Linked DNA regions of Homo sapiens: all the other regions are linked to region 1. Evidence: fine-mapped expression QTL. A gene starts in region 1. Each other region holds a variant in brackets. All regions are shown on one strand. Distances are between the middles of the regions.

Region 1 (11,245 bases):
GGTGTGCTCTGTGATTGCACTGACAAACAGAACAAGACAGAAGTGACTCTGGGCCAGTTTCTGGGCCCAGGCCTTAAGAGACAAGCAACTTCCACTTCTTGTTTCTTTCAACACAACCACTCTGAGAAGTGCAAGCCAAACAGAGAGGCCACGCATAGCTGCTCTGGTTGACAGCCCCAGCTGAGCTCCCAGCCGATGGCCAGCCTCAGCTGTCAGCCACGTGGTTGTGCCATCTTGGATGTCCAGTCCAGTAAAACCTTCAGATGACTGCAGCCCAGCCACTAACTGAAGCCATCTGAAAGCCCAGGCAATTACCACCTGGGTGACCCATTCGATCCGTAAGAGATAATAATATGTTTTTTTTTTAAGCTGCTATTTTTTTTTTCAACTTAAGCCACTAAATTTTGGGGGTGGTTTGTACACTAGAATAGAAAACCAGAATAGATGTGGAAGGAGAGAGAGACAGCAGAACCAAGGATGATATCTAGAATTCTGGTTTGAGCAGAAATAAAGACTGGAAGTAGGGCTGGGTGCTGTGCTCCCACCTGTAATGCCAGCACTCTGGGAGGCTGAGGTGGGCGGATCACTTGAGGCCAGGAGTTCAAGACCAGCCTGGACAACATGGTGAAATCCTGTCTCTACTAAAAATATAAAAATTAGCTGGCCATGGTAGCTGGCGCCTGTAATCCCAGCTACTCGGGAGGCTGAGGCAGAAGAATCACTTGAACCCGGGAAGCGGAGGTTGCAGTGAGCCAAGATCCTGCCATTGCACTCCATCCTGGGCGACAAGAGAAAAACTCTGTCTCAAAAATAAATAAATAAATAAATAAAATAAAGACTGGGAGCAGACAAACAGTTTTTAGGGGATGGTTCTGGGTGAATGATCATAAGCTAGGAAATATATATTTTTGGAACTATATTAAAATTCCTTTCTAGAGATCCCACTATGTTCCCTCTGCAGCATTAGCTATCCAGGTTTTACACAGGTTTATGTTTTATAGATACCTATCTCTAAGACTCTTTAAAATATTAGTTTTAATATCTCTTCCTAGAAGAAAAGTTGTATTTCTCCAAAGTATCAAGAGGAACTGGGGCCTGGCGTGGTGGCTCACACCAGTAACCACAGCACCTACGGAGGTTGTGGTGGGCAGACTGCTTGAGCCCAGGAATTCAAGACTAGTCTGGGCAACAAGGTGACACTCCATCTCTACCAAAAATACAAAAATTAGCTGAGCATGGTGGGCACATGCCTGTACTCCTAGCTACTCAGGAGGCTGCGGAGGGAGGATCACTTCAGCCCGGGAGGCTGAGGCTGCACAGAGCTATGGTTGTGCCACTGCACTCTGGCCTGGGCAACAGAGTGAGACCCTGTCTTAAAAAAGAAAAAAGGAAACTAGTACCAATATCATCATATTCAGTCCTTGTTGATCTAGGGCTCAACTTCCAAGTCCCCTATTCATTTGTCAAATATTTACTCATCCTCTACTAGTTGCTCAGCCCTTTACTGGCTGTCCAGGCTTCATATCCCTGCCCCTATGGAGTTTACATCCAATTTGAAAAGCAAAGAACAAGTGAAGAAAATAATTACCCCCTCTAATAAGAGCAGTGAGAAACAAGCAGGGTACTGATAGAGAATGATGGTTGAGGGGAAAGCTGAGACCTAAGGAAGTGGAAAAAGTTAGCTGTATGAAGAAGTGCAGGGGGAAGTGAGGGGTGGTAGCCATGGAACCAAGAGTACAAAGGCCCTCGGGTGGTTGAAAGCTTGACCAGATTCTAGGAACCGAAACACATGCATGTTTGGGGTTTAATGATCAAGGAGCCAAGGAGCACTAAAAAATAGAGTTGGAGAGACATACAGAGGCTAGATTAAGGTATTAGGTCATATTTAAGGATTTACAATGTATCCCTTTTTTTTTTTTTTTTTTTTTTGAGATGGAGTCTTGCTCTGTCTCCCGGGCTGGAGTGCAGTGGCGCCATCTTGGCTCACTGCAACCTCTGCCTCCCAGGTTCCAGCAATTCTCCTGCCTCAGCCTCCTGAGTAGCTGGAATTACAGATGTGCACCACCACACCAGGCTAATTTTTGTATTTTTAGTAGAGACGGGGTTTCACCATGTTGGTCAGGCTGGTCTCGAACTCCTGACCTCAGGTGATCTGCCTCAGCCTCCCAAAGCACTGGGATTACAGGCGTTAGCCACCATGCCTGGCTAGGATCTACAATGTATTCTAAGTACAAAAGATATACAGAAGCCTGAACATGATCTGATGCGTGTTTTTAGAAGATAATGGACAGAACAGATAGGAGAAGAGGAAAAAGAGAGGGAAAAAAGCCTGTTGAGAAACTGCCACAGTGATGCAGGAGAGAAAAAGATGGTCTGGGCTGAGGTTCGCTCTCATTTTCTTTCCTTAGATTAAATCTCTCCTTTTCAAAGGGCAGATGGATGCTTAGTAAAAACAGATCAGCAAACAATTATTCCCATGTACCCAAGTATAAATAAGACTCCATGGATTCCTGCTTTGCATAAAGGTTTGAAATATTTTATTTTATTTTTTTTTTGAGACGGAGTCTGGCTCTGTCACTCAGGCTGGAGTGTAGTGGCGCGATCTTGGCTGACTGCAACCTCAGCCTCTCGGGTTCCACTGATTCTCCTGCCTGTCTCCCGAGTAGCTGGGACTACAGGCATGTGCCACCACACCTGGCTGATTTCAAGATTTGAAATATTTTAAAGATTGATGGTGTCCTGGTTTGATCTTGGGTTTTGGCACCAAAAAATAAAATTAAAAATAAAGATTGATGTTTACCACTCATCTTCACCAACCAACCTACTTCCCCTAAACCTAAGGTTTCACTGTAGCAGGAACTACCATCTGTGGCATGAGATCAACTCAACCAATTAGTGGCTTTCAAGCCTCTTCACCTTAAGCAGTATTTGTCATCTACAAGTTCCCTTGCAACTGGAATGGGTGGGGTGGAAGATCCAAGAAAAGCACAGAATTTTCTTTTTTTGAGACAGGGTTTTGCTCTGTTGCCCAGGCTAGAGTGCAGTGGCATCATCATGGCTTGACCTTCCTGGGCTCAAGTGATCCTCCCAGCTCAGCCTCCTGAGTAGCCAGGACTGCAGGCTCATGCCACCATGCCCAGCTGATTTTTTTTTTGAGACTGAGTCTCGCTTTGTCACCCAAGCTGGAGTGCAGTGGCACGATCTTGGCTCACTGCAACCTCTGCCTCCTGGGTTCAAGCAATTCTCTGCCTCAGACTCCTGAGTAGCTGGGATTACAGACGCCTGACACCACGCCCAACTAATTTTTGTAGTTTTCGTAGAGACGGGGTTTCACCATCTTGGGACGGGTTGGTCTTGAACTCCTGACCTCGTGATTCACCCGCCTTGGCCTCCCAAAGTGCTGGGATTACAAGCGTGAGCCACTGCACCCAGCCTGCCCAGTTTTTTTTTTTTTTTTTTTGAGACGGAGTCTCACTCTGTTGCCCAGGCGGGAGTGGAGTGGCGCGATCTCGGCTCACTTCAGCCTCCGTCTCCCGGGTTCAAGCGATTGCTCTGCCTCAGCTTCCCGGGTAGCTGGGACTACAGGCACGTGCCACCATGCCCGGCTAATTTTTGTATTTTTAGTAGAGATGGGGTTTCACCATATTGGCCAGGCTGGTCTCAAACTCCAAACTCCTGACCTTGTGATCCGCCTACCTCAGCCTCCCAAAGTGCTGGGATTACAGGCATCAATCACCGTGCCCGGCCTCCAGCTAATTTTTTTTATAGGGACAGTGTCTCTGTTACCTAGGCTCTACAGCACAGGCTGGTCCCAAGTGATTCTCCCATCTCCCACTCCTGGCCCCAAGTGATCCTCCCATCTCAGCCTCCCAAAGTGTTAGGATTACAGGTGTGAAGCACTGTGCCTGGCTCAGGTACAACATTTTAGATGCACTCAGTCCGTTAAGGCTTAGTCCAGGTTTGATTGTTATTGTCCTTCTGTTGGGCCATAGGGCCTGTACTGTGAACTAAAATGAACTTCAGTGTTAAGTAAGGAAGGGATCCTTATTAGCCTTAAATTCAATTCCCTTATCTCAGTGTCTTCAAGTTTCTCACAACTCTTGAGTATCGATAAAATAGTCTTCACCTAAAACATGGTTAACATAATTCAGTTGACATGCTTAAATTTCTCTTCAAGAGCCAGAGGCTGATGGCAATTGTGAAAAAAGCTCTTTATTGTTATTGCTAATAAAAAAAAAAGGGCCAATAGTCAGGTGTGGTGGCCTGTACCTCTTGTCCCTGCTACTGGGGAGACTGAGGTGGGAGGATGGCTTGAGCCCAGGAGATCAAGGCTGCAGTGAGGCATGATTACACCGCTGCACTCCAGCCTGGACGACAGGGTGAGATTGTCTCAGAAAAATAAAGAAAAAGGGTTATTTCATATTGGTTCAAAAATATAGGTAGTATGACCCCCTGATGACTTGAAGACAGAGCAACAGAAGGACCTTCTTTAGTCATCATTAGCTTAGCCAAAAGAAAAGTCAGTTACACTCACTGTTGCATAATCAGTTGTATGGTCAACTGTGCACTAATTCATTTGGTCACAAATATATACAATCAAATTAAGGTTGAATGTAAATTTAAACTTTACTTTTGCTTTCTTCTCCCCTCCCCCCCAGAAAGATCCATGGTCCAATATAACATATCTTCTTCAAGTATTTATGGGGTAAGAAACATTTTAAAAAGTTGTTACATTCTTTCCTCTATCTTAATGATTTAAATATGAGCAAGTTCGGTCTATCAAGGCAGGCTCTGAATAGCTACTATCGAGAAGTATTTGAGGAGTTCTTGAATGCCAAATCTTCATTGTCTGCTGACTCTGCAGATTTATCACGTGCTGAAAGCACAGGTTTTCCAACTGTCAACGTCTTTACGAAATTCACCTGCTTAGGCTTTCGTGGGGTCGGCCTCTTGGAGCTGAGAACACAGCTTCTGCTTACACCTGTGTCCTCAATGAAGCCAGAGATTCCTAAGAGAATTCTAGAAAAAGAGGAGCGGGGTAGAAGGCAAGCAAGGAACAGTTTCTAAGCTTAGGGCCTAAACCTTTGCATACAAGGATCAGCTACCACGTTTACAGCGGCTTTAAGTTACAGCCCTCGGTAGGTGCAGATCGGCTTCCCAATGAAACCTGGCTTTCACTTTCATCTCTGTTAAGGGTTACCTTTTCAAAAGAAGCCGCTTTTCCTCCTACCAATTTCCTAAAGCGCCCACCGGCAACGCACTAAACAAGGAGGGCACAGAGCGGGAAAAAGGACACGTGTGATTTCCGAACTCTTCCCGGCGGGCTCCGGGCCCCGGCAAGCCCAGCCCCGCGGGAGGAACCAAGGCCGCCACCCCCGAGAGGCAGCCCGGCCCGCGCTCCTCGCCCACGTGGCCGCCGCACGCGCCCGCTCAAAGTCCAAGGGCGGCGATCCGGCTCTGGGACCTTGGACCGAGCGAGCTCCCGCCCCGACGGCGGGAGTCAGAACGGTGGTGGCCAGCAGTCCCCGCCCGCGGCTCCGTGCACCTCCACCCCGGCCCGCGCGCCGCCTCCCGAACCACCGTGGCAGAGGCCGCAAGGGGAACCGGAAGCCAAAATGGCGACGCCCCGCCCTTTTCCTCTCGCGAGAGGCGGGGAAGGAAAAAAAGTTGTGCGAGCGACGGGGACGTAACCAATTAGAGTGCCGGGAGCGCCTGATTGGCGGCCCTCCCGGCGCCTGCAGGCCCCGCCCCGGCTGCGGAGGCTCAGTCACAGCCCTCCCCTCCTCGCTCCCTCCCCTCCTCTCCCCGCCCAGTTCTTCTCTTCCCGTCTGAGGTGGCGGTCGGTCTCGCCTTGTCGCCAGCTCCATTTTCCTCTCTTTCTCTTCCCCTTTCCTTCGCGCCCAAGAGCGCCTCCCAGCCTCGTAGGGTGGTCACGGAGCCCCTGCGCCTTTTCCTTGCTCGGGTCCTGCGTCCGCGCCTGCCCCGCCATGAATGAGGAGTACGACGTGATCGTGCTGGGCACCGGCCTGACGGTGGGCGCCAGGGCTGAGGGGCCGGGGCTGAGCAGCCGGGGCGGGCGCACCCCCGGCTCCTGCACGGCCCGCGGGTCGCAGCTCCTCGGGGGTCTCGTTCTGCCGTCAGCCGTAGTTTTCGGGACGGGAGTCGTGGCTAGGGGCGCGGGCGGGTTCAGGGGCGCCCCGCGTCCCGGGGCGAGCGGGCGGCTCCCAGTGTGAGGGGCAGGCGGGGAAATGGAGATGCGGGCCGTGAGGCTCGGGGCGGGGTGACGGCCGAGCCCGGCCTCTGCGCTTGCCCCCAGCGGAAGCGGAGGGGAGGGGAGAAGGCCGCCCGGGCCAAGGGTCCCGCTCCCCGGTTTGGGCCGGTGACCTCGCCCGGTTGGAAACCAGCACCCGAGGCGGAGGGGACGGTGCAGGCCTCGCGGTTGCATTTCCTATTCCGCCTCGGCCGCTGCCCCGGGTCAGTCTGGCTGCCAAAGCCGAGTACGGGGTTTCCTGACAAGTCTTGGATAATCACTGCTTCGGAACTGCTAGGGCTTGATTAACTTATATTTTTGGCGAAAACGTGGAAATTAGTCTTTTAATCCTTTCTCCCCCCTGCTAATGAGAAGTATTATTGAATCCTTTTAGCCACCCTCCCTTCTCACTTACTGAGCATCTGTAGAATTGGAATTGAGTTTTTTCAAAACTTGTCCGTCAAATGCTTTCGCACCTGACCTTCGCCGCCTTTTCCTTTTGTTTGGTGGGTTCTCTGCCTCCTTTGTCTCTTCTGGACTGTTTTCCCCTAAGAATTGGGTTGGTGATGGATTGCTAAAAGCCAAGTTCTCTGTACTCCGAAGCTTTCTTCAGGGAGTTGGAAGATAATAACATGAAGAATGCATTGTAATATATGAATGCAAGGTGTACCTAATATCATGGTATATTGATTTTCCTGGTTATCTGTTTCTAAGGGAACTTTAGGTAATCTGTAGATAACGCAGGCAGGTTCTGTAGTTTGTACTTTTTCTGTTCTTTTTTTTTTTTTTTTAAATGTTCATCTTGCAAAAGAATTCACTTTGGAGAAAACCATTTTAACTATCAATTTTTGGGGAAATTTGAAATTCTAACTTTGGGCTGCTTGATCATAATTAAGATGAATACTGATGTAAATCTTGTGTATCCTATGTACTCTGACTTCAAATTCCTGAGTCATTTAATGTAGACTTCCACTTCAAATTTTTTGAAATTTATTATAATCTCTCAGGGTCAAACCAATTTTTTTTTTTTTTTTTACAGGTAACATCCCAAAATAACACTTTTAGATGTCTCTAGGCAAGAGAAAACCTTCGAACTTTTATTTGGCTAATTTTTTAGGAAAGGTTTGTGAAGAATTAGAATCGTGTTTTTCTGGTCTGTCATTTTTCTGTTTATAGTTATATGCAATTATTAGAGAATATTCATTCTGAATACTTCGTTATGTTTGACCAATCCAGGAATAATCCTGTGTCTGTCTTTGAAAAGCTGGAAGACTGTTGGATGCCTAAATGAATAGGCCCTACCCACTGCAGGTTTTGTGCTTTTTTTTTTTTTTTTTTAAGTGCCTAATTGGGATTCCAAGCTGAGCTTAGTAGTTTGTGGTGGATTTTGCCTGTTGGAATGGGTAGTGTTGCTGCCAGCGTGTTTTAAGAGCCGGTTAGTTCCACCGTTTTTCTATGGTTGTTGCTGGTCTTTCAGATTTGCTCACAATTGAGGTCAGTTAAGCATGCACGAGTGAGTGCAAATCCACCATCATGCAGGCTTCCACAAGCCTCGTTCACATCACTTTGTATCAAAGATGGTGAAAGTGTTTTTATATAACAAGTTAAGATAATGAGCTTTGTTTAAATTTTCATTCGGATTGTGAACTCTTTGATGAATGGTAGATGCATACTTAACTAGAAATCAGACCTGTTTCTGCTGTCATTTTGTAGCTGTGATAACTTTAATCTCTGTGAGCCTTCCTAAGTTTTCTGAGATGTTCTTTGATAATTATATCAATTCAGGACAATCACATTATTACCATCATTGATAGGAGTAGTGATGACAGGATGATTTTGATAATGAGAAATCATATATCCTTATTTTTAGTGTTACCAGGAATTAGATGATTAAAAATTAGAAGAAGAGAAAACCAAAGTTAGCACTCAGAATTAACTTTTGAATGTCTGGAGTTAATTAATTTTCTTAAAATTTACTTTAGTGCCTGAGACTTAAGAACCTAAAAAAAGGCAAGTACTTTCAGTGTTAGGAACTTGTTACTTTTAAAGAAGTGTAAGGAAGTGCTGGAGTTGCTGTGTTGCTTAGTGCTGCCATTGTTTGTATGAGTTGTTAAGTCTAAGCTCATAATCACAAATATTGATAGTTATCTTAATCAAGAAGATACAAAACGATTTGGTATAAAGGAGTAAAATCTTCATTCTGTGTGTAAAAGAAATGGAATATTCCACACAATTGAATTTTCTGAGGAACTAAAGGTTATCTCTAAAGAGCACAGCTTTTGGATAATGCCTTTCTAAATGCTGTCACAACTTCTTTAACAAACTAAGAAACATAATTTACTTGATAACCAAGTTTTCACATAGTGAAGATTAACTATTGTGTTATGCTGTAACATGGTGAAGCCATGAAGACCCCGCCAGCTTTGTAGGAACTTTTGCCCCCTTTACTCTCAGGCTGCTATGCTTTTTGAGCTCTTCAGTTTACTCTTCATATTTTTTCCCTCTATCTTACTTTACTGTTAGGCTGGCAACATTTACTTTTCTCTGCTTTCAGCATGTGTAGGCAGCCTCTCACCACATAATTTGCACATAGTTCACTATGGACTTGGAAATAAATTCACGAGTCTTGTTAGACATAGTAGATTAAAACAATAAGAGTAACTAGTTCCACAGCTGTTTGTGCTTCCCAGAGGTTTTTTTCTTCCCATTTTTTGTTCTACACAGTAAGAATTTATGAATAGAAATATATACTTTAGTGATGTATACCAGATGATTCTCAGCATCATATGTTTAAAAACTTGCTTTACATCCCAGATACTTTTCCTCATTTCTCTTTATCAGAATTTTGTGATTTCAGATTCAGAGAAGGTTTTATACTTGATTTTAAAATTCTGAACTAAAATTCAGATTGCCTCTTGGATTTGCTTAATCTTTGATTTGCTCTTTGAGAGTTCTTGCTTATAGCTGTGTTAGAGTTCTGTAGACAAAGGACTTTCTATTCACTACAGTAGTGAGCATAGGATCAATATTTGCAAATGCTGTTACACTTGGGAGCTGTGTTGTAGGCAGTTTAAACCAGCGTTAAGCATCCTGGCCAAAAGAAAATATAAGTGAAATTAGACATATTTTAGCATGTAGAGATGACAATAGTGTGACATTGGTTTTTAAAGACCACTGGTAGATGTTCACATGCGTGATACACTGCAATTACCTCTGTCTTCCCTCCCATGGTACCTGATTGGAGACTCTTACTGGAGTAATAGTTTCAGTTTCAGTTATTTAAACCCAGTGACTATTGTGATCAGTTATGGGCAGTAAAAAGGTAAACACAGAACCTGTCTATAAGTAGCTTGTTCTCGTGTTGGAGAGTAACTAATAAGAATTAGTATGAGAAAGCATTAAGTCCCCTAAGAGGTGCACTTATATGAGTTCAGTCAGGGAATCAGGAAAACCTTCGTAAAGAAGGAGATATTTAGCTGGCTTTAAAAAAATATTGGCAAGGTTTGAATGGAGGAATGATTTTTTAGGCAGAGAGCAGTCAGTGTAAGTCAATGCTAAGTCAAGGATGTATGTAGGGAATGGGGAGTGGTTTGTTTTGCTTGAAACAGAAGCTTTGGAGAGAGATTCTAGGCTAAGAAATGTGAAAATTATCTTCAAGGCAGTGAGAGAGGACTTTGAGCAGGAGAGTGATATAATTAGCCACATTTCAAGAGAAGGTATCTTTTGACAGTTTTTTTTTTTGTTTTTTTTTGAGATGGAGTCTCACTCTGTTGCCCAGGCTGGAGTACAGTGATGTGATCTCGGCTCACCGCAACCTCTGCTTCCCAGGTTCAAGCAGTTCTCCTGTCTCAGCCTCCCGGGTAGCTGGGATTACAGGTGCCTGCCACCATGCCCAGCTAATATTTGTATTTTTAGTAGAGATGGGGTTTCACCATATTGATCAGGCTGGTCTCGAACTCCTAACCTCAGGTGATCCACCCGCCTAGGCCTCCCAAAGTGCTGGGATTATAGGCATGAGCCACCGCGCCTGGCTGACAGTTTTTAATGAGATGCATTAGAGGGGCAGAGTCATTTAAAGAAACATTCTTCATAAAACAGCCATTTTTATTATGTTGCTGTAAGATACTTGCCATTGAAATGAACTGATTTAAAATTTTTCTGGTTAATTTCTCATGTTTCTAGGTAAGTAGTTTTGAAAAGGCACTTTAATATTAGTTATTAGATACTTTGTACTCCTGATCACATTTGTGTGTGTGTGTGTGTGTGTGTATTTGTAGTTTTTTTTTTTTTTTTTTTTTAATAACAACAATACTTTTTATTTCTGAGACAGAGCTCTCTGTTACCCAGGCTGGAGTGCGGTGGTTCAATCTCAGCTCACTACAACCTCTGCCTCCCCGGTTCAAGTAATTCTCCTGCCTCAGGCTCCCAAGTGGTTGGAATTACAGGTGCTCACCACCACGCCCGGCTAATTTTTTTGTATGTTTAGTAGCGATGGGGTTTCACCATGTTGGCCAGGCTGGTTTTGAACTCCTGACCTCAGGTGATCTGCCTGCCTCAGCCTCCCAAAGTGCTGGGATTACAGGCGAGAGCCACCGCACCCAGCCCATAACAGAACTTTAAAATGCAGTAGGATTTGATAGGGTGTAGAGGATTTTTTGTTTGTTTGTTTTTGAGACAGGGTCTCGGTCTCTTACCCAGGCTGGAGTGCAGTTGTGTGATCACAGCTCACTGTAGCCTCAACCTTCCAGGCTCAAATGATCCTCCCACTTCAGCTTCCCAAGTTAGCTGGAACTACAGGAGGCATGTAGTTTGGGTATTTTTTGTAGAAATGGGGTTTTGCCATGTTGTCCAGGCTGGTCTCAAACTCCTGGGCTCAAGCAGTTCTTCTGCCTCGTCCTCCCAAAGTGTTAGGATTACAGGCGTGAGCCACCTTGCCCAGCCAGGGTATAGAGTTTAGTTTGTCACTAGGAAGGTATATCAAAATATTAATAAATT
Region 2 (8,122 bases), 110 kb after region 1:
CTTTTTCATTTACTGATTAGCTGGTATCTGTCTTCTAGATGTTTCCTCAAGAAAGGCTCATATAAAAAGATGTAAAACCCTGAATGTTTAAAACTACCAGCCAGTACATAGTCTTTATACCCAAAGGACACCTTGGCAGCACAAAAAAATATTTGGCTCACATGTTCTTTGAGTAGCTGACATGTAGTTCCTCTACTATTTTCTGGTATTGAATGTTTCTGTTATTCTGCACCAACCTGATTTTCTTTATATGATCTTTTGCCAGTTGAAATTTTTTACCAGAATATGTCTCAATGTTGCGCCAGTTTTCCCTGGAGCATGTTGTGTCTTTTCAATAGATTTAAGTCCTTTCTTTAAGGAAAAGAAACATCTTAAATTATACTTTAAATTATGTATTCTACGGAATCGGTTTTCTTTTTTGGGGCTCCAGTTTTGCCCGTTTTGGATCTCTTTTGGCTGTCGTATCTATCCTTACTTACCAAAAAAAAAAAAAAAAAAAAAAAAAATGACCATTTTAGTAATGAGATCAAAGCTATAATAAAAACTCTTCCATTAAAGAAAAGCCCAAGACCTTATAGCTTCACTGCTGGATTCTACCAAACATTTAAAGAGGAACTAATATAAATTTCTATTTGAACTCTTCAAAAAATTGAAGAGGAGGAAATATTTCCAAACTCATTCTACAAGGTCAACATTACTCTGATACTAACACCAGAGGAGACAATGAAGAGAAAACTACAGGCCAATATCACAGATAAACATAGATGCAAAAATTCTCAATATACTAGTAAATCAAATTTAAAAACACAGTAAAAAGATATTTGCCATGATCAAGTGGGATTCATCCCAGGGATGCAAGGATGGTCCAACATGTGCAAATCAATAAATGTGATATATTAACAGAACTAAGAACAAAAACCATGATTACTTCAACAGATGCTGAAAACGCATTTAATAAGATTTAACATCTGTTTATGATTTTAAAAAACCCTCATCAAACTGGGTATGGAAGGAACGTATCTCAAGTAATAAAGGCCATATATGACAAACCAATAGCAAACATCATCCTGAACAAGGAACAATTGAAAGCCCTTCCTCTAAGATATGGAACAAGACAAGGATGCCTACTTTCACCACTTTTATTCAATATAGTACTGGAAGTACTGGGCAGAGCAATTAGGCAAGAGAAAGAAATAGAGGGCATCCAAATCAGAAAAGAAGAAGTCAAATAAGCCTGTTCACAGATAACGTGATCTTATACTTAGAAAAACCTGGACTCCACCAAAAAAATTGTTAGAACTGATAAACAAATTCAGTAAAGTTGCAGGATACAAAATCAACATACAAAAATCGGTAGCGTTGGTATACACCAACTGCAAGCAATCTGAAAAAGAAATCAAGAAAGCAATCCCATTTACAATAGCTACAAAGAATATAACATACCTAGGAATCAATTTAGCCAAAGAAGTGAAAGATCTATACAAGAAAAACTATAAAACAATGATGAAAGAAATTGAAGTGGACATTAAAAAATAGAAAGATACTCTATGCTCAGGGACTGGAAGAATTCATATTGTTGAATACTACCCAAAGCCAATTTACAGATTCAATGCAATCAATCCCTATCAAAATTCCAATGACATTCTTCTTCACAGAAATAGAAAACAAATCCTAAAATGTATATGGAACCACAAAAGATCCTGAATAGCCAAACCAATACTAAGCAAAAACAACAAAGCTGGAGGCATCACACTACCTGACTTCAAAATTTACTACAAAGCTACAGCACTGGCATAAAAACAAAACACAGACCAAAGGAACAGAACAGGGAACCCAGGTGTAAATCCATATAGAGCCAACTCATCATCGACAAAGGAGCTAAAACATACAATGGGAAAAGGACAGTCTCTTTGATAAACGGTGGTGGGAAAACTGGATAACTACATGCAGAAGAACAAAACAATCTGACCATATACAAAATTCAAATCAAAATGGATTTAAGACTTACATCTAAGCATCTAAGACCCAAAACTATGAAACTACCAGAAGAAAACACTGGGAAAACACTCCAGGATACTAGTCTGGCCAAACTTTTTTTGTTTAAGGCCTCAAAGGCACAGGCAACCAAAGCAAAAATAGACAAATGGGATTACATCAAGCTAAAAAAAAAGCTTCTGCACAGCAAAGGAAACAATGAAGTAAAGAGACAACCCACAGAATGGGAGAAAATATTTGCAAACTACTCACCCGCCAAAAGATTAACAACCAGAATATATAAGGAGCTCAAACAACTCAACAGCAAGGAAGCAAGCAAGCAAGCAAGCAAACACACACACACACACACACAGACACACCCCCACAAATAATCCAATTAAAAAACAGGCAAAAGATCTGAATAAACATTTTTCAAAAGAAGACATAAAAATGGCCAAGAGGTGTATGAAAAAATCCTCAACATCATGAATGATCAGAGAAAAGCAAATCAAAACTACGAGACATCATCTCGCCCCAGTTAAAATGGCTTTTACTAAAAGGACAAGCAATAATGAATGCCGGCGAAGATATGGAGAAGGGGGAACCCTTATACACTGCTGGTAGAAATTTAAGTTAGTACAGCCACTATGGAAAAGAGTACAGAGCTTTCTCAAAAAAATAAAAACAGAACTACCATATGATCCAGCAATTCCACTACTGGGTATATATCCAAAAGAAAGAAAATCAACATATCAAAAAGACATCTGCACTCCCGTATTTACTGCAACACTATTCACAACAGCCAAAATATAAAATCAACCTCAGTGTCCATCAACAGATGAATAAAGAAAATGTAGTATACACAATGCAATATTATTCAGCCATAAAAAAAAAATAAAATCCTGCTATTTTCAGCAACACTGATGCAACTGTAGGTCTTTATGTTAAGTGAAATAAGCCAAGCACACAGAGACAAATATCACATACTCTCACTCATATGTGGAAGCTACAAAAGTGGATTTCATGAAAATAGAGAGTAGATTTGGTGGTTAT[G/C]AGAGGCTGGAAAGGGTAGGAGGAAGGAAGGAATAAAGAGAAGTTGATTAATGGGTATAAATATATGGTTTGATAGAAGACCTAGTGTTAGATCAGTAGGTTGACTGTAGTTTACAATCTATTATATATTTCAAAATGAATAGAATTTGAGTGGTTCTAGCACAAAGAAAAGAGAAATATTTAAGGTAACAGATGACCCAACTACACTGACTTGATCTCTACAAATTATATGACTGTATTATCACATGTATCCTAAAACTGTGTACATCTATTACGCATCAATAAAAATAAATGTGTACCTGTTTTACTCATTTTTCTCCTGTCTATCTTTTGTTTTCTTTCTTTGCATTATCAAAATTGTGGTAAAATATACTTACCATAAAATTTCATTTCTACTTTTATGATCTTTGCCATGGTGTCTAGTCTCCCTTGTGTACTTCTGAAATGGCTTGATCATTTTTCTCTATTTCTTTTTTTCTGCTGGTTCCCATTTCACACTCTACTGTTGTCTGGCTGTCTCTTCCTTGAGTTCTTGTATTTCTTCTTTCCAGTAGTTCTCCGTAACTTCTATGCTTCATTAATTTTATTTTCTAATACAATGTTGAGATATAATTCATACGGCATACAATTCACCCACATAAAGTGTACAATTCAATTGCTTTTAGTATATCCACAGAATTGTGCTTAGTATATCCACAGAATTGTGCAACCTTCACCACAATCAATTTTAGAGTATTTTCATTATCCCCAAAGAAACCTTCTACCCCTTAGCTATCCTCCTCACCCCTCACTGGTTCCTAGGCCTAGGAAACCATAATTTACTTTCGGTCTCTACAGATTTGCCTATTCCAGACCATTTCCTATAAACAGAGTCATACAGCACGCGGTCCTTCATGATTGGCTTCTTTCACTTAGCCTGTTTTTGAAGTTCATCCATGTTAAAGCATATATCAATATTTCATACCTTTTTATGCCAAATAATATTCCACTTTGTGGATATACTACATTTTGTTTATCCATCAACTGATGCACATTTGGGTTGTTTCTACATTTTGGCTATTATGAATAATTATGCTATGAGCATTCATGTATAAGTTTTTATGTGAACATGTTTTCATTTCTCTTACGTATATACCTTAGAGTAGAATGGCTTGCTCTTCCAGTAAATCTGTGTCTGCTCATCTGAGAAACTGCCAGGCTGATTTCAAAGTGGCTGCACCATTTTATATTCCCACCAGCAGTATACAGAAGGTTCCAATTTTTTCACAGCATTACCAACACTTGTTATTATCTGTCTTTTTGATTACAGCTATCTTAATGGGTATGATGTGGTATATAAATTTATTTTAAAATTTGTATTAAAACCTTAGGTCACATTTTCCATCTACTTCAAAAGGTCAGCAAACTTTTTCATAAAGGGTCAGAAAATAAATACTTTAGGATTATGAACCACACGGTCTCTGTCACAACTACTCATCTCTACCGGTAGAGCATAAAAACAGCCATAGAAAATGCATAAATAGGAATGACCATGTCCCCATATAACTTTATTTACAAAAATAGGCAAGACCACAGGCAGTAGCTTGACCACTTGTGATTTATTTTCTGCTAATATTGTTTTGAAAAATATCGTCTGTAGAAAATTGTGGTTTTTCTCTCTCTTTTTTTATTTTTAATCATATAACTGTTCGGTTAACTAATGTTTATTAACAGACCATCCTGAAGTTCACTGGCTTACAACCACAATCATTTTTTTATCACTCACATCTCTACAGTGTTCATTGAATTCAGCTTAACTCAGCTGGGGTGGCCCTCACTCTCCTATCTCTCATCTTCCCTCAACCAATGAGCTAGCAGAGACATGTTTTTCTCATGGAAATGGCACAGATAGAAAGAGAACAAATAAAAATACCCAAGGCCTCTTAAGGCTTAGGCTTGAAACTGATATGTTATCACTTTTACCTTAGCAAGTCACATAGCCAAACACAAAGTCAAGGAGTAGGGAAATATCTCTGTCACTTTAATGAAAGGAACTGCATAGGGTCATGGAGTGAACATAAGGAAAAGTAAAGCACTAGGGTCAATAATGCAATTGGTAGTGGTGATCATTGCACAACCTTGGGAATAAATTAAAAGCCAGTCAACTGTACACTTTAAAATGGTGAATTTTATGGCATGTGAATTATATCTTCAATAATAAAAATAATATAAAAGAACAAAAAACCAACATAAAACATAAAAAATACCATCTACCAGACAGTCACTGTATGGATGCTGTACATACTATTTTTGTTATACATGTCTGAATGAGATGAATTATCCTGGACTGTTATCAGAAGATTCAGGGTGTAGGGAGGGGTAGGGCACTTGTCATGTTTCTTTAGGGTTCCCTCTGTTCCTAAATCAGAGGACTGCTGTTTTATAATATGGTGCCTTGTTCCTTATCTAATCTCCAAATGTAATCTGGTTCAGGAGGGCCTTTATTGCCAGCTCTGCTTGCCTCTTAGAGACACAACCCTTGCTTTCCAAGGTTATGCACTCATTTCTAGGAGTACTTTATTAGCACTAAGATCTCTGCCTCCCCCATGCCCCACCCAGGCACTTTCTCATTCTGCTTTCTCCTTCCTTGATACCATATGGCTCCTCAGTCTTAGCCAGGTATACGAGACTTCTCTCTTTGGATAGGGCTGATTCTGGATATGAATAAGTTGCTGGAGATACCTGAAATATGCTTCTTCTGCGCAACTTTATCTTTGTCACAGAACTGTTGGAACTTCCCACTGGGGATACCTAACAGCACTTGCATACAATTTAAAGTTAAGGTTTCCTTTTTCCCTGAATTTGTTAAAATGCAGTTTAAGAGCTAGCACCTCGTTCTCTGCCCCCATTCTTCTTTTCAGAAGTAGGAAGAAAATCAATCTGGTCTTGTTCCTTTTGGAACTATACATTCGGTACAATGAAGTTTTGTTTATTTTTTGTTTGTTTCTGTTTTATTGATCAGGGCGCTTAATAGGCCCTTTCAACCTAGAAAGTCACCTTCTTCAGTTCTGGGACACAGATAGTTTCCTTCCACTGTATTAGATGAAGAACCTCCTTGGTTGGCCCTCTAATTTTCTCATCATTTCACTCTTATTTTCTAATTCTTGTGCTCTTCTGGTTTTTTGGGGAGAATTCTTCAGCTTTATTATCTAAACCTTGTATTAAATTTTTAAGAAATTTCTTCTGTCGCAGCAGTTTTTTTTATATAAACTTTTTCATCTTTCACAGATGTAATATCTTCTCTTTAAAGATACTAGTTTTATTTGTTGAAGTTTCTTCTGTTCCCTGAAGTAAATCTATTTATACTCAGCTCCTTTTATTTCCTACTTGGTCTCTTTTTCATTAGAGACTTTCATTCTATGGCAGGCGACCCTTGGCTGTACATTTATACTCAAATGTGAGGCATTTAAAAGCTGACTAGGGCCAGGCACCAGTGGCTCACACCTGTAATCCCAGTACTTTGGGAAGCCAAGGCAGGAAGATCACAAGCCCAGGAGTTGAAGACCAGCCTGGCAACATAGTGAGACCCCATCTCTACAAAAAATAAAAATATCAGCTGGACGTGGGGGCATACGCCTGTATTCCCGGCTACCCAGGAGGCTGAGGTGGGAGGATGGCTTGAGCCCAGGAGTTCAACGCTATAGTGAGTTATGATGGCGCTACTGCACTTCAATCTGGGTGACAGAGTGAGGCCCTGTCTCAAAAAATGAAATAAAAGTTGACTAGAAGCTGTGGTACGTGAACAATGCTTCCTGACCAGCGGCTGTACTCTCCAGGTGATCTGATGGATCCAACTGTTCAATCGGGTGAATTTCCATAGTTCATATCTGTTAAATACTGTGCCATGGGCTGGTAAGTTTCCCCAGCTAAGAATCCGTTAATGTTTTGTTGAGGGGCACGTAAGCCTGATAGTTTGGAAGCCAATCAAAAAAAGACAACCGCTCTAGGTTCAGCATGTTGACCTGACTTTCACTCAATCCTCATTTTCATTTAGGTGCTTCACCCCCACCTTAACCATCTGGAGCCTCCTAGTCTCCTGGGTATAAACCTTCAGTCTTCCGTCAAGGTAGAGGAGAGAGTAGTTGTCTGGGTGTGTGGGAGTGGAGAAGGGGTTCCAGGGTATCAAAATGATAAAGACCATCAACCAACCCTTCTATTCCCACCCCATCCTGTAATTCTTGACTTCAGAAGTCCTGTACTTGATACCCCCAATTCCTAAAACTTTTCCAGATTCTGTGGAAAGAATCTGCTTGCTCCTTGCTGGGTTACCTCTCTTCAGCTTTCAGCATTCTCTAATTCATGAAATCATTTATTACTTGCCCATCTCCTTTCTAGTTTCCCAAATACTGATTTCAGCTATATCTTCCTCTCACCTCCTCTTGATCTTTGTGGATTTATATCCTTATTCTTTTACTATAATCTTAAGAGAGACTTCCAAAGAGTGTATACAATTGAACATGTTAGACTAAAAGTGTCTACTTAACCTGTCTTAATTTCTACCATTAAAAAATGATGCAGCTACCTCCTACAATGGTAGCTACTATTGCCATTATTTTATATTTTGTGTAATTATGAAGACCTCATTTTACTAATGCACCCACCACAGCCCTAATTACACACCAAATCAATACATACTAATTTAAATAATTAGCTGTTAGTGTATATGTATGTACTCAATAGTCATTTACTCAAATGCATAAAAAGCACAATCTAAAGATCTTCAATGATATTATCTCAAAGCATCCTGTCCTTTTCTTGCATGATTTATAATTACATATGTGTAGTTTCTTCATTAATGTCATTTTCCTTAATGAGCCAAGCAATATCACGGCAGGAACCATATCTGTTTTGTTTACTACTGATTACTCAGCATCCAGTCCAATTCCTAGCACATAGTGTTTAGTAAATATGAATTTGGTAACTGAAGAATAAATAATACTTGGCTATTTAATCTGTTCCGAAACTCAGAAAAAGAAATGAAACTTCTCAATTGTTTTTACAAAGCAATCAGATGCGAATACCAAAACTAGACAAAACACATTAAAAAACAACAACT
Region 3 (11,245 bases), 40 kb before region 1:
CTCCAAAAGTGTTGGGATTACAGGCATAAGCCACCACACCCGGCCTTGGCATTTCTCAATCAGATTGAAGATCTTTAGATTTGTTTTTTTGGCCATTATAGCCCTTTTTCCTATTTTTACCTGTATCAGTTAGCTGTTACTAAATGACAGACCACCCCAAAGCTCACTGGGTTGAAACAGGAGTCTGTAGGGCATCTGGGTGGCTTTGCTGCTCGCAACTGGGCTCACTCCTGCGTCCCGTCAGCCAGTGAGTTGCTGAGCTGGTATAGGATGGCCTTGGGTGGATCAAGCTGGCTCTGCTCCCCATGGTCTCTCCATTCGGCTAGCCCAGGCTTATTTTTCATGACAGTGGCAGAGATTCAAGAGAGAAAAGAGACTTAAATGTGCTTTCCAGTCTCCGCTCTGTTTGTGTAGATGCTTCCATCCCATTGGCCAAAGCAAGGCATGGTCATGCCCAGAATTAGTGTAGGGGGCAGAACCCACAGACTGGACACAGAGGCCATTGATTGGGGCCATTAATGAAACCAGTTCTTGCTTCATCTTTTGACCATTGTTTTGTCTTGTTGATTTGTAAGAGTCATTTTTATATTGGGTAAATTAGCTCTACACATAATTTCAAATAATGACAAAATTTGGGTTATACATTTACAAGTAAAAAAAAAAACAGACTACAGCACAGCAGAAATAATCTCCTTTATAGCTCCTTTAAAAAAAAAGAGCTCTTGTGAGTAGATACAGGCATACACAGGCACTCACTACAATGCTGGGAGTGGGATGGCACAGATTCCTTGGATATGATAGGGTGTTTCTATTTAGATTACAGTATGTGGTACCTTTAAAGCAGCTCTCAGAGTTCTAGAGCTTCCACCTGTGCCAGCCTACAACATGCATGGTCTTTATTTTTCCCAGTGTTGCTGAAAATCCACGATTAGCTAAAAGGTAAATGAACGCAAAAGACGTAGGAACAAAATCCAGCTTGTGGCTCGTCCTGTCCCTTGAACACAGAGCCTTGGGTCTACCACATCCTTTCCTCTCTTCCAGCTGATACAGACTTAGATAATTCCATTTTGTGATTTAATATTAGATGGAGGTGGGGTGGCTCACACCTGTAATCCCAGCACTTTGGGAGGCTGAGGCTGGAGGATGCCTTGAGCCCAGGAGTTCACAGCTGCAGTGAGCTATGATCACACCACTGCACTCCAGCCTAGGTGACTGAGTGAGACCCTGTCTCTAAATAAAGACCAAAAAATAACAGTGGACTAAACCAAAGTTTATTTTCTTTCCCGCATAAGAGTCTGGGCATAGCCAAGTACAGATGAGCTCAACCAGCCCCAGGTGTCAGCCCCCCGGTTCCTTCTGCTGGTTGTTCTGCTGTCCTGAGTAGGTTGCCCTTTTCCATGTGGTCCAAGATTGCTCCCCAACCTGTGGAGGGGAACAGGAATGAAGGGGAGGGCCAGGCGCAGTGGCTCACACCTGTAATCCCAGCACTCTGGGAGGCTGAGGCAGGTGGATCACTTGAGGCCAGAAGTTCGAGACCAGCCTGGCCAACATGGTGAAACCCTGCCTCTACTAAAAATACAAAAATTAGGCTGGGCACCGTGGCTCCTGCCTGTAATCCCAGCACTCTGGGAGGGTGAGATGGGTGGATCAGCTGAGGTCGGGACTTGGAGAGCAGCCTGACCAACATGGAAAAACCCCATCTCTACTAAAAATACAAAATTAGCCGGGCATGGTGGCACATGCCTGTAGTCCCAGCTACTCGGGAGGCTGAGGCAGGAGAATCTCCTGAACCTGGGAGGCGGAGGTTGCAGTGAGCCGAGATCGTGCCATTGCACTCCAGCCTGGGCAACAAGAGCGAAACTCCATCTCAAAACAAACAAACAAAAATTAGCTGGGCATGGTGGCACACACCTGTACTCCCAGCTACTTGGGAGGTTGAGGCAGGAGAATCGCCTGAACCCGGGAGGCAGAGATTACAGTGAGCTGAGATTGCATCTCTGCACTCCAGCCTGGGAGACAGAGTGAGACCCTGTCTCGAAAAAAATAAAATAAAAAAAATATATAAAAGAAAAAAGAATGAAAGGGAGGCTATGCATGCCCCCTTTTTTTCAGAAGGCATGTAGATCATTTCTGTTCACATCCTCCTGACCATAGATCAGTCATATGACTGCTAGAAGAAAATTGAAATTTAGGGATGGTTCAGGGCTTTGCCATATGCCCTTATCAGAGGTGCCTTCATTGAGACTATTTGGGGACAATTATCTGTGCAAGTCTTTGCTGCTGTCCCCACCCTTCCCCTAACACACACACTCCTTAACCTTAGCTTTTAAAGTCTTAGAGACCAGAGAGCAAATCCACTTATTTATAGATACGCAGTTGTAAGGGACATGAGAACAATCTGTGAAGATGGCATTCGGAGCAGAGAACAAGGCCGCATAGCCGTGTAGGGTGTTAGTCCCCTACAGTGATGCTCCAAGTGACCTCATGCAGGTCACACTCCCTGCCTCTCAGTGTCCTGGTAAACGATGGGCAAAATGGCACCTCCTTCCCAGGTTTACTGTGAGGATTAACCGAGTTGGTGTGTGTCAGACCCCGGTCCAGGTCCAGCCCATGCTGAAGTCCAAGGTGAGTGGGGTGGATGAGCAGAAACGCTTTGGTGCAGGGGGCCTAGGCAGGTGAATATGGTTTTATTCAGCAGCAGTTCTCATCAATGGCTTTTTATTAGCAGCTTACTCACATTAGCTCTCTCACCCTGTCCACCTTTATCTCTGCTATTTGCTTTGGCTCTGTGGCTCCTGTGACCCCCGGCTCTCCCTTGCCTTCAGGGTCAGCAGCTTAACTCTTTCTTTCTCTGGCACAAGCAAGCAGAGCTGTGTCCTGGCTCCCTCCTGTCTGTCTACAAGATGGACAGCTTTGGCTGTCTCCCTTTCTCTGGGCGCCAGCGCACCCACCACATCAAGCCATGTCGAGCCAAGCTGAGCCTCAAAAGCACCTGTACGGCGTCAGCAGGGCAGTTATACCTTTTACAGACAATAGTGGCTCAGAGCCAAGTATGAACTTACACAAACAGGTTATGTAACAAGCGGAGGTGTGCGCCTGCGCACCAAACTCACTGAGCCGTGCAGGCCTGTATATCCGCCTCGGTCTCTACCTTGACCAAATCACATCTATATACCTTACAGCGTGCATGATGCTTGGCCCAGCACGTGCACCCAACACGTGTGAGCCATTGTGAGTAACAGTCGCACCAGGTGAGCCTCTTTGGCTTAATGGGCTGAGTCGTCAAAGGCGAATGAAAATCATCAAGTTAGCAGCACAAGACCAAGAAGAGCTCAACTGAAGAAAGCAGTGAGACAAACACCATTTTTAGCCCCTTTTCCTACTTTTTCTCTTTCTCTTTCCCTCCCTGGGGATGTATGTCCTTAGCCCTTGGACGCCTCCATTGTCTTTATCAAAAAGAAAACTAGGTTTCAGTCTTCATTCATGCTAAGGTGTTAATGAAAAAATTTCAAATTTTATCAATCCTTGAGTTGTCTGCATTTTTTTTTTTTTGAGACAGGATTTCACTGTCAGGCTGGAGTGCAGGGGTGTGATCCCGGCTTACTGCAGCCTCTGACTCCTGAGTTCAAGCGATCTTCCTACCTCAGGCTCCCAAGTAGCTGGGACCACAGGCAGGCACCACCACACCTAGCTAATTATTTTTTTGTATTTTTTTTAGTAGAGACAGGGTTTCACCATGTTGCCCAGGCTGGTCTCAAACTCCTGGGCTCAAGTGATCTGCTCACCTCAGCCTCCCAAAGATATGAGCCACCATGCCCAGCCAATTGTCTGCATTTTAACAAGGATCAAATTATTAAACCGAAAGAATGAAGCTCTCAATATGAAATGCATGCGTCATTAAAAATGTAAAGAAGTATTTTCAAAAATGTATTCTAACTGGGCCTTCCTTCATATCTTTATTTGTATTTTTTGTTTTTTGTTTTTTTTGAGACATAGTCTCCCTCTGTCACCCAGGCTGAGTAGCACCAGGTGAGCCTCTTTGGCTTAATGGGCTGAGTCGTCAAAGGCGAATGAAAATCATCAAGTTACCAGCACAAGACCAAGAAGAGCTCAACTGAAGAAAGCAGTGAGACAAGCACCATTTTTAGCCCCTTTTCCTAGTTTTCTTTTGCTCCTTCCCTCCCTGGGGATGGAAGTGCAGTGGCATGACCTCGGTTCACTGCAACCTCCGCCTCCTGGGTTCAAGCCATTCTCATGCCTCCGCCTCCTGAGAAGCTGGTACACACACACTCAGGTGTGTGCCACCACACCTGGCTAATTTTTGTATTTTTAGTAGAGACGGGGTTTCACCATGTTGGACAGGCTGGTCTCAAACTCCTGGCTTCAAGCAATCCACCCACCTCAGCTTCCAAAGTGCTGGAATTACAGGCGTAAGCCACCGTGCCTGGTTTGTATCTTTATATTTGTTTATTTATTTTTTTTTTTTTTGAGACGGAGTTTCACTCTTGTTGCCCAGGTTGGAGTGCAATGACACAATCTCGGCTCACTGCAACCTCTGCCTCCTGGGTTCAAGCAATTCTCGTGCCTCAGCCTCCTGAGTAGCTGGGATTACAGGTGCCCGCCACCACGCACAGCTGATTTTGTATTTTCAGTAGAGACGGGGTTTCACCATGTTGGTCAGGCTGATCTCAAACTCCCTACCTCAGGTGATCCGCCCGCTTCCGCCTCCCAAAGTGCATTACAGGCATGAGCCATCACGCCTGGCTGGGTCTTTATAATTTTTTTATAATTAAGACATTTTCTGTCCCTTTCATGACTACATCTTGTTAATTCAATTTCTATTCAGCATCTCAAATAGGTCCACTTTCAACAAGCCCACCGACAGCCACTAGGCAACTCCAGCCATTGTCCTCTTGTTCCAGGTACTGTGGCTGCACAGCAAATTACCCCCAAATCTAGCCGTGTAAAGCAGCCCTTTGTTATGCTCATGGATTCTATGTATAGGAATTCAGACAGGGTCCAGCAGCGATGGCTTGTCTCTGCTCCCAGGGACTGGGGATTGCAGCTGGAAGATTTGAAGGCTGAAATCACCCATGTCTGGCAGATGCTGCTGGCTGACGACCTCAGTTCCTCCTCACATGGGCCTCTCCCTCGGTCTCTCCATGTGGGCTGGTGTGAGCTGAGAGAGAGGGAGGGAGCGCCAGGCAAGGCCATATTGCCTGTCATAGCCTAACTTTATTTATGTATTTATTTATTTATTTATTTTTTTGAGACAGGGTCTCGCTCTGTTGCCCGGGCTAGAGTGCAGTGGCACGACCTCAGCTCACTGCAACCTCTGCCTCCCTGGTTCAAGCAATTCTCCTGCCTCAACCTTCCAAGTAGCTGGAACTACAGACACATGCCACCACGCTTGGCTAATTTTTTTTGTATTTTTAGTAGAGACGGAGTTTTGCCATGTTGCCCAGGCTGGTCTCGAACTCCTGACCTCAGGTGATCTACCCACCTTGGCCTCCCAAAGTGCTCGGATTACATGTGTGAGCCACTGTGCCCAGCCTCATGGCCTCATAGTCTAGCTTTGAAACTCAGCTAGCCTGTGGTTCCATAGTGTAGTGGTTATCACATCTGCTTTACACGCAGAAGGTCCTGGGTTCAAGCCCCAGTGGAACCATGGTGTGGTCTGTTGTTTTCCTGCCTGTAATCCTAGCTCCTCGGGAGGCTGAGGCAGGAGAATCACTTGAACCCAGAGGCAGAGGTTGCAGTGAGCTGAGACTGCGTGAAACTCATCTCAAAAAAAAAAAAAAAAGTCATGCAACGTCGCTTTGCCACATCCATTTGTCAAGGCAGTCAAAGTCTCGCCCGGGTTCAAGGTGAGGGAAGTAGACTCCACCTCTTGATGGGAGTGGTAAAGTTCTGGAAGAACAGGTGGGAGTGGAAATGCGGGAGCACCTTTCAGACATGGGCTCTGCCATGTTTCCCTTGGCTGAGTTACTGGGATGGCCTCATCACTGGCCTTGCTACTTCCACTTTTTTTTTTTTTTTTTTTTTTT[G/TG]AGACAGAGTTTTGCTCTTGTTACCCAGGCTGGAGTACAACGGCGTGATCTCAGCTCACCGCAACCTCCGCCTCCTGGGTTCAAGCGATTCTCCTGCCTCAGCCTCCCGAGTAGCTGGGATTCCAGGCATGTGCCACCACACCCGGCTAATTTTGTGTTTTTAGTAGAGATGTGGTTTCTTCATGTTGGTCAGACTGGTCTCCAACTCCCGACCTCAGGTAATCTGCCCTCCTCGGCCTCCCAAAGTGCTGGGAGTACAGGCGTGAGCCACAACACCCGGCCCTACTTTTTTGTTTTCTTTTGTTTTTGTTTTTGTTTTTGAGACAGAGTCTCACTTTGTCACCAGGCTGGAGTGTAGGGGGTGTGATTTCGGCTCACTGCAACCTCCACCTCCTGAGTTTAAGCGACTCTTCTGCCTCAGCCTCCTGAGTAGCTGGGACTACAAGCACCTGCCACCACGCCCAGCTAATTTTTGTTTTTTTTTTTAGTAGAGGTGGGGGTCACAATGTTGGCCAGGCTGGTCTTTAACTCCTGACCTAAAGTGATCCGCCCGCTTCAGCCTCCCAAAGTGCTGGGATTACAGGCGTGAGCCACCGTGCCCAGCCTACTTCTACTTTTGTACTTCCCTTTCTGTGACTCTCACAGAGCAGCCTGGGAAAGCTAGAAACAGATTAGCTTGTGCCCCTCCCTGCCTCTTACTTCTCAGGGTAGAACTGCCAAGGAGGCCAGAGGGACAGCCCAGTCTGTCACCGCAGACGCCTCTCACTCACCCTCTCTTCACGCCCCAGGCCTCCTTTCAGTTCCTCAAACAAAACGGACCAAGCCGATTTCCTTCCACCTCAGTGTCTTCCTGGAAATTTCTTTTCTCAACTTGTCATGAGTTTGATTCCTATTCGCCCTTCTTGCCACAGCCTGAATGTCTCTCCCTGGACAGGAACCATCGCTGATTCCACTCTAAAAATCCTTCCTGAAATCCTGTCACGTCACTTGTGCCAACGTGGATGAAGCTGCAGGACGTGATGTTAGGGTGAGACAAGCCAGGCTCAGAGAGACAAACACTGTAAGATCTCACTCATATGTGGCATCTAAAAACAGCAAACCTGGCAGGGCACAGGGGCTCACGCCCGTAATCTCAGCACTTTGGGAGGCCGAGGCGGGCGGATCATGAGGTCAAGAGTTTGAGACCAGTCTGGCCAATATAGTGAAACTCCATCTCTACTAAAAATACAAAAATTAGCTGGGCACGGTGATGCACGCCTGTAGTCCCAGCTACTCGGAAGGCTAAGGCAGGAGAATCGCTTGAACCCGGGAGGCAGAGGTTGCAGTGAGCTGAGATTGCACCATTGCACTCCAGCCTGGGCGACACAGCAAGACTTTGTCTCAAAAAAAAAAAAAAAAAAAAAAAAAAAGCACGAATCCCATTCATGGGGGCCTCACTCTCATGACCTCATCACCTCCCAAAGGCTCCACCTCTTAATACCGTCACCTTGGGAGTTAGGGTTTCCACCTATGAATTGTTCCACCTGTGAACACAAACATTCTGATCATTGCAGTATTTTTATCACAATAATAATAAAAAATACGTCGGGCGCGGTGGCTCACGCCTGTAATCCCAGCACTTTTGGAGGCCGAGGCAGGCGGATCACGAGGTCAGCAGATCAAGACCATCCTGGCTAACACAGTGAAACCCTGTCTCTACTAAAAATACAAAAAAATTAGCTGGGCATGTTGGCGGGTGGCTGTAGTCCCAGCTACTCGGGAGGCTGAGGCAGGAGAATGATGTGAACCCGGGAGGAGGAGCTTGCAGTGAGCCGAGATGGCACCACTGCACTCCAGCCTGGGCGACAGACCAAGACTCCGTCTCAAAAAAATAAATAAATAAATAAAATAATAATAATAATAATAAAGATGGCAGGAGAAATCCTTTGGAGGTCATGGGTATGTTTCTAACATAGATTTTGGTGATGGTTTCACGGGTGCATACTTATCCCCAAACTCATCAAGCTGTATACACTAAATATGCGCATATTTGTATGTCACTCATACTTCAATAAAGTGGTTGTAAAAAATCAATAAATAGGCCAGGTGTGGTGGCTCACGCCTGTAATCCCAGCACTGTGGGAGGCCAAGGTGGGCGGATCACGAGGTCAGGAGTTTGAGACCATCCTGGCCAACACGGTGAAACCCCGTCTCTGCTAAAAAACAAACGAACAAAAAAATTAGCCGGGCGTGGTGGCGGGCGCCCTTAGTCCCAGCTGCTCCGGAGGCTGAGGCGAGAGAATGGCATGAACCCGGGAGGCGGAGCTTGCAGTGAGCCGAGATTGTGCCACTGCACTCCAGCCTGGGTGACAGAGCAAGACTCCATCTCCAAAAAAAAAAAAAAAGGATACAAAAATTAGCCGGCTGTGGTGGTAGATGCCTGTAATCCCAGCTACTCAGGAGGCTGAGGCAGAATTGCTTGAACCTGGGAGGCAGAGTTTGCCGTGAGCTGCGATCGCGCCACTGCACTCCAGCCTGGGTGACAGAGCAAGACTCTGTCTCGAAAAAGAAAAAAGAAAAGAAAATCAGTAAATAAAAAAGAAAATCAGTAAATAAAGCTATGCGTAGTGGCACATGTTTGTAATTCCAGCTACTCGAGACTCAGATGGGAAGATTGCTCCAGCCCAGGAATTCGACACTGCAGTGAGCTATGATTGCACCATTTCACTCCAGCCTGGGCAGCAGAATGAGACCCTGTCTCTAAAAAAATAAAAATAAAAATAAAGGATTAAAACTAAAAATCAGGCCAGGCACTTTGGGAGGTCGAGGTGGGAAGATCGTTTGAACCCAGGAGTTCAAGACCATTCTGGGCAACATAGCAAGACCCCATGTCTACCATAAGTAAATAAATATCAACAAATAAAAGCAGGCCCTTCCTGACAAATTCTCTCAGCACTCTGTAACATTCCTTCCAGGTATTGACAATATTCGTTCATATGGTTTTTGAATAGCATCCTTTCCTACAAAACTGGAAGGTCCCCAAGAGCAGTGTCCATGCCTGCTGTGTGCCAGGCGTGGAGGAGATCCTCTGTGGATGTTTGCTGAATGAATGAATGATACAGGGGAGGAGCAGCGAACAAAGAGTCTGTCTTCACCTTCAAGAATCAACCTCTGAAAGAAGAGCCAGGGCCGGGTGTGGTGGCTCACACCCAGCACTTTGGGAGGCCGAGGCAGGTGGATCACCTGAGGTCAGGAGTTTGAGACCTGCCTGGCCAACATGGCAAAACCTCATCTCTACTAAAAGTACAAAAAAATTAGCCGAGCGTGGTGACGGGCGCCTGTAATCCCAGCTACTTGGGAGGCTAAGGCAGGAGAATTGCTTGAACCCAGGGGGCGGAGGTTGCAGTGAGCCGATATCACACCATTGCACTCCAGTGACAAGAGCAAAACTCCATCTCAAAAAACAAACAAACAAAAACAAGAAGAGCCAGGGCTGGGCACAATGGCTCACACCTGTAATCCCAGCAATTTGGGAGGCTGAGGCTCAAAGAAGATTATTTGAACCCAGGAGTTTGAGACCAGCCTGGGCAACATAGGGAGACTCTGTCTCTACAAGAAATAAAAAATCAGCCAGGCATGGTGGTGCACACCTGTGGTCCCAGCTTCAGGAGACTGAAGCGGGGGGGATCGCTTGAACCCAGGTCGAGGCTGCAGTGAGCTGTGATTGTACCACTGCATTCCAGCCTGGAAGACAGAACAAGGCTCTATCTCTAATATTAATAACAACAATAATAATACAAGAAGAGCAAGACTGGCATCACCATAAGACAAGTGCAGTGTGATAAGGACTACCAGAGAGCTAGAAAGGCGAGGCTGGAAGGGAAGTCTTCCTGGAGAAAGTGGAATGAGGGCCAAGACTTGAGGAATGGAAGGAAGTTGATTGGTGGAGAAGTTGGGCAGCTCTTTCTGAGCAGAGTCAAGATGTGGATGTGATAGCATGAAACTTGGCTGGCCAAGTAAGATGCCAGACCCCTGGTTATGTTTGAATTTCAGGTAAGCAATGAGTTATTTCTTGTTATCAGTAATGTCCCAAATAATTGCACAAAACCTATTTATTCTAAAAAAGTATTTGTGGCTTATCTGAATTCATGTTGAACTAGGTGGCTTATATTTTTGTTGTTGTTGTTTGTTTTCGTTTTTTTGAGACAGGCTCTCGTTCTGTCACCCAGGCTGGAGTGCAGTGTCACAATCTCAGCTCACTGCATCCTCCACCTCCTGAGTTCAAGCAATTCTCCTGCCTCAGCCTCCTGAGTAGCTGGGATTACAGACGTGCACCACCACGCCTGGCTAATTTTTGTGTTTTTTAGTAGAAATGGGGGTTTCACTGTGTTGGCCAGACTGGTCTCGAACCCCTGGCCTCAAGTGATCTGCCCACTTCAGCCTCCCAAAGTGTGGGGATTACAGGTGTGAGCCACTGCACCTGGCCTGTCTTGTATTTTTATTTGCTAAGTCTGGCAACCCTAGATGAGATGCTAATCCATGTGGCAATTTGGCTCTTTCTGAAAGGGCATAAATGAACTCTATTTCTTAGCTGACCACAGGAAAAAAAATGAGTTAAACTGAATTTGGAGCCCAGATTCTCAATCATTGCTGAAAGAATCAACCTCAAAATCTCAGGAACTTACCAGAGTAAATGTTTATTTCTCGTCTGTGAAATGTCTGACGTGGATGTTCTTGGTTCATGGGTTTTCCCTGAACCAAGATGGTTTTCCGCTGAGCGGTAAACTCAAGGACACAGGCTCCTTCTGCTGTGCAGTGTCACCAGCTTGGACTCCTTGGCTTCCAGTCACACAAACTGAGGAAAGAGACAGCAGGAGCTGTCACACAGCCCTTCTGTGGGCAGGCCTGCCAATGGCCTCAACTCTGGCCATGTTCCATTAGCAACACTAGGTGTGTGACTCCACCCAGATGCTGGGAGGGCCTAGAAATGTCATCTTCCTAGGCCGAGCGTGGTGGCTCACGCCTGTAATCCCAGCACTTTGGGAGGCCGAGGTGGGCAGATCACGAGGTCAGGAGTTCGAGACCAGCCTGATCAACATGGTGAAACTCCGTCTCTACTAAAAATACCAAAATTAGCCGGGCGTGGTGGCATGCACCTGTATTCCCAGCTACTCAGGAGGCTGAGGCAGTAGAATTGCTTGAATCCGGGAGGCGGAGGT

What was found.
Region 2: its variant is fine-mapped to the expression of GDI2 in whole blood (INTERVAL, PIP above 0.99).
Region 3: its variant is fine-mapped to the expression of GDI2 in monocytes after LPS (Kim-Hellmuth 2017, PIP 0.94).

What each region holds. Positions count from the first base shown.
Region 1 is chr10:5,808,001-5,819,245 of GRCh38, reverse strand. GDI2 (GDP dissociation inhibitor 2) reads left to right here and starts at 5,812. Exons shown (of 11, transcript NM_001494.4): 1 at 5,812-6,032. The coding sequence starts at 5,988. LOC124902367 (a long non-coding RNA gene) reads left to right here and starts at 6,049. Exons shown (of 2, transcript XR_007062041.1): 1 at 6,049-6,931; 2 at 7,290-11,245. RefSeq lists enhancers at 324-373, 1,472-1,591, 5,042-5,141, 5,205-5,797, 5,798-6,390 and 1 more and silencers at 5,342-5,521, 5,582-5,851, 5,992-6,531.
Region 2 is chr10:5,695,020-5,703,141 of GRCh38, reverse strand. All of the region lies in intron 1 of TASOR2 (transcription activation suppressor family member 2), which reads right to left. Among named protein-coding and RNA genes, the nearest start is that of TASOR2, 14 kb to the right of the region's middle. The variant G/C (reference allele first, on the strand shown) is at 3,028.
Region 3 is chr10:5,848,134-5,859,378 of GRCh38, reverse strand. It overlaps TRV-TAC3-1 (tRNA-Val (anticodon TAC) 3-1), which reads left to right and starts at 5,596; the gene lies at 5,596-5,668. RefSeq lists a silencer at 5,547-5,747, enhancers at 6,228-6,287, 6,544-6,713, 6,808-6,897, 7,028-7,077 and a cis regulatory region at 6,628. The variant G/TG (reference allele first, on the strand shown) is at 6,048.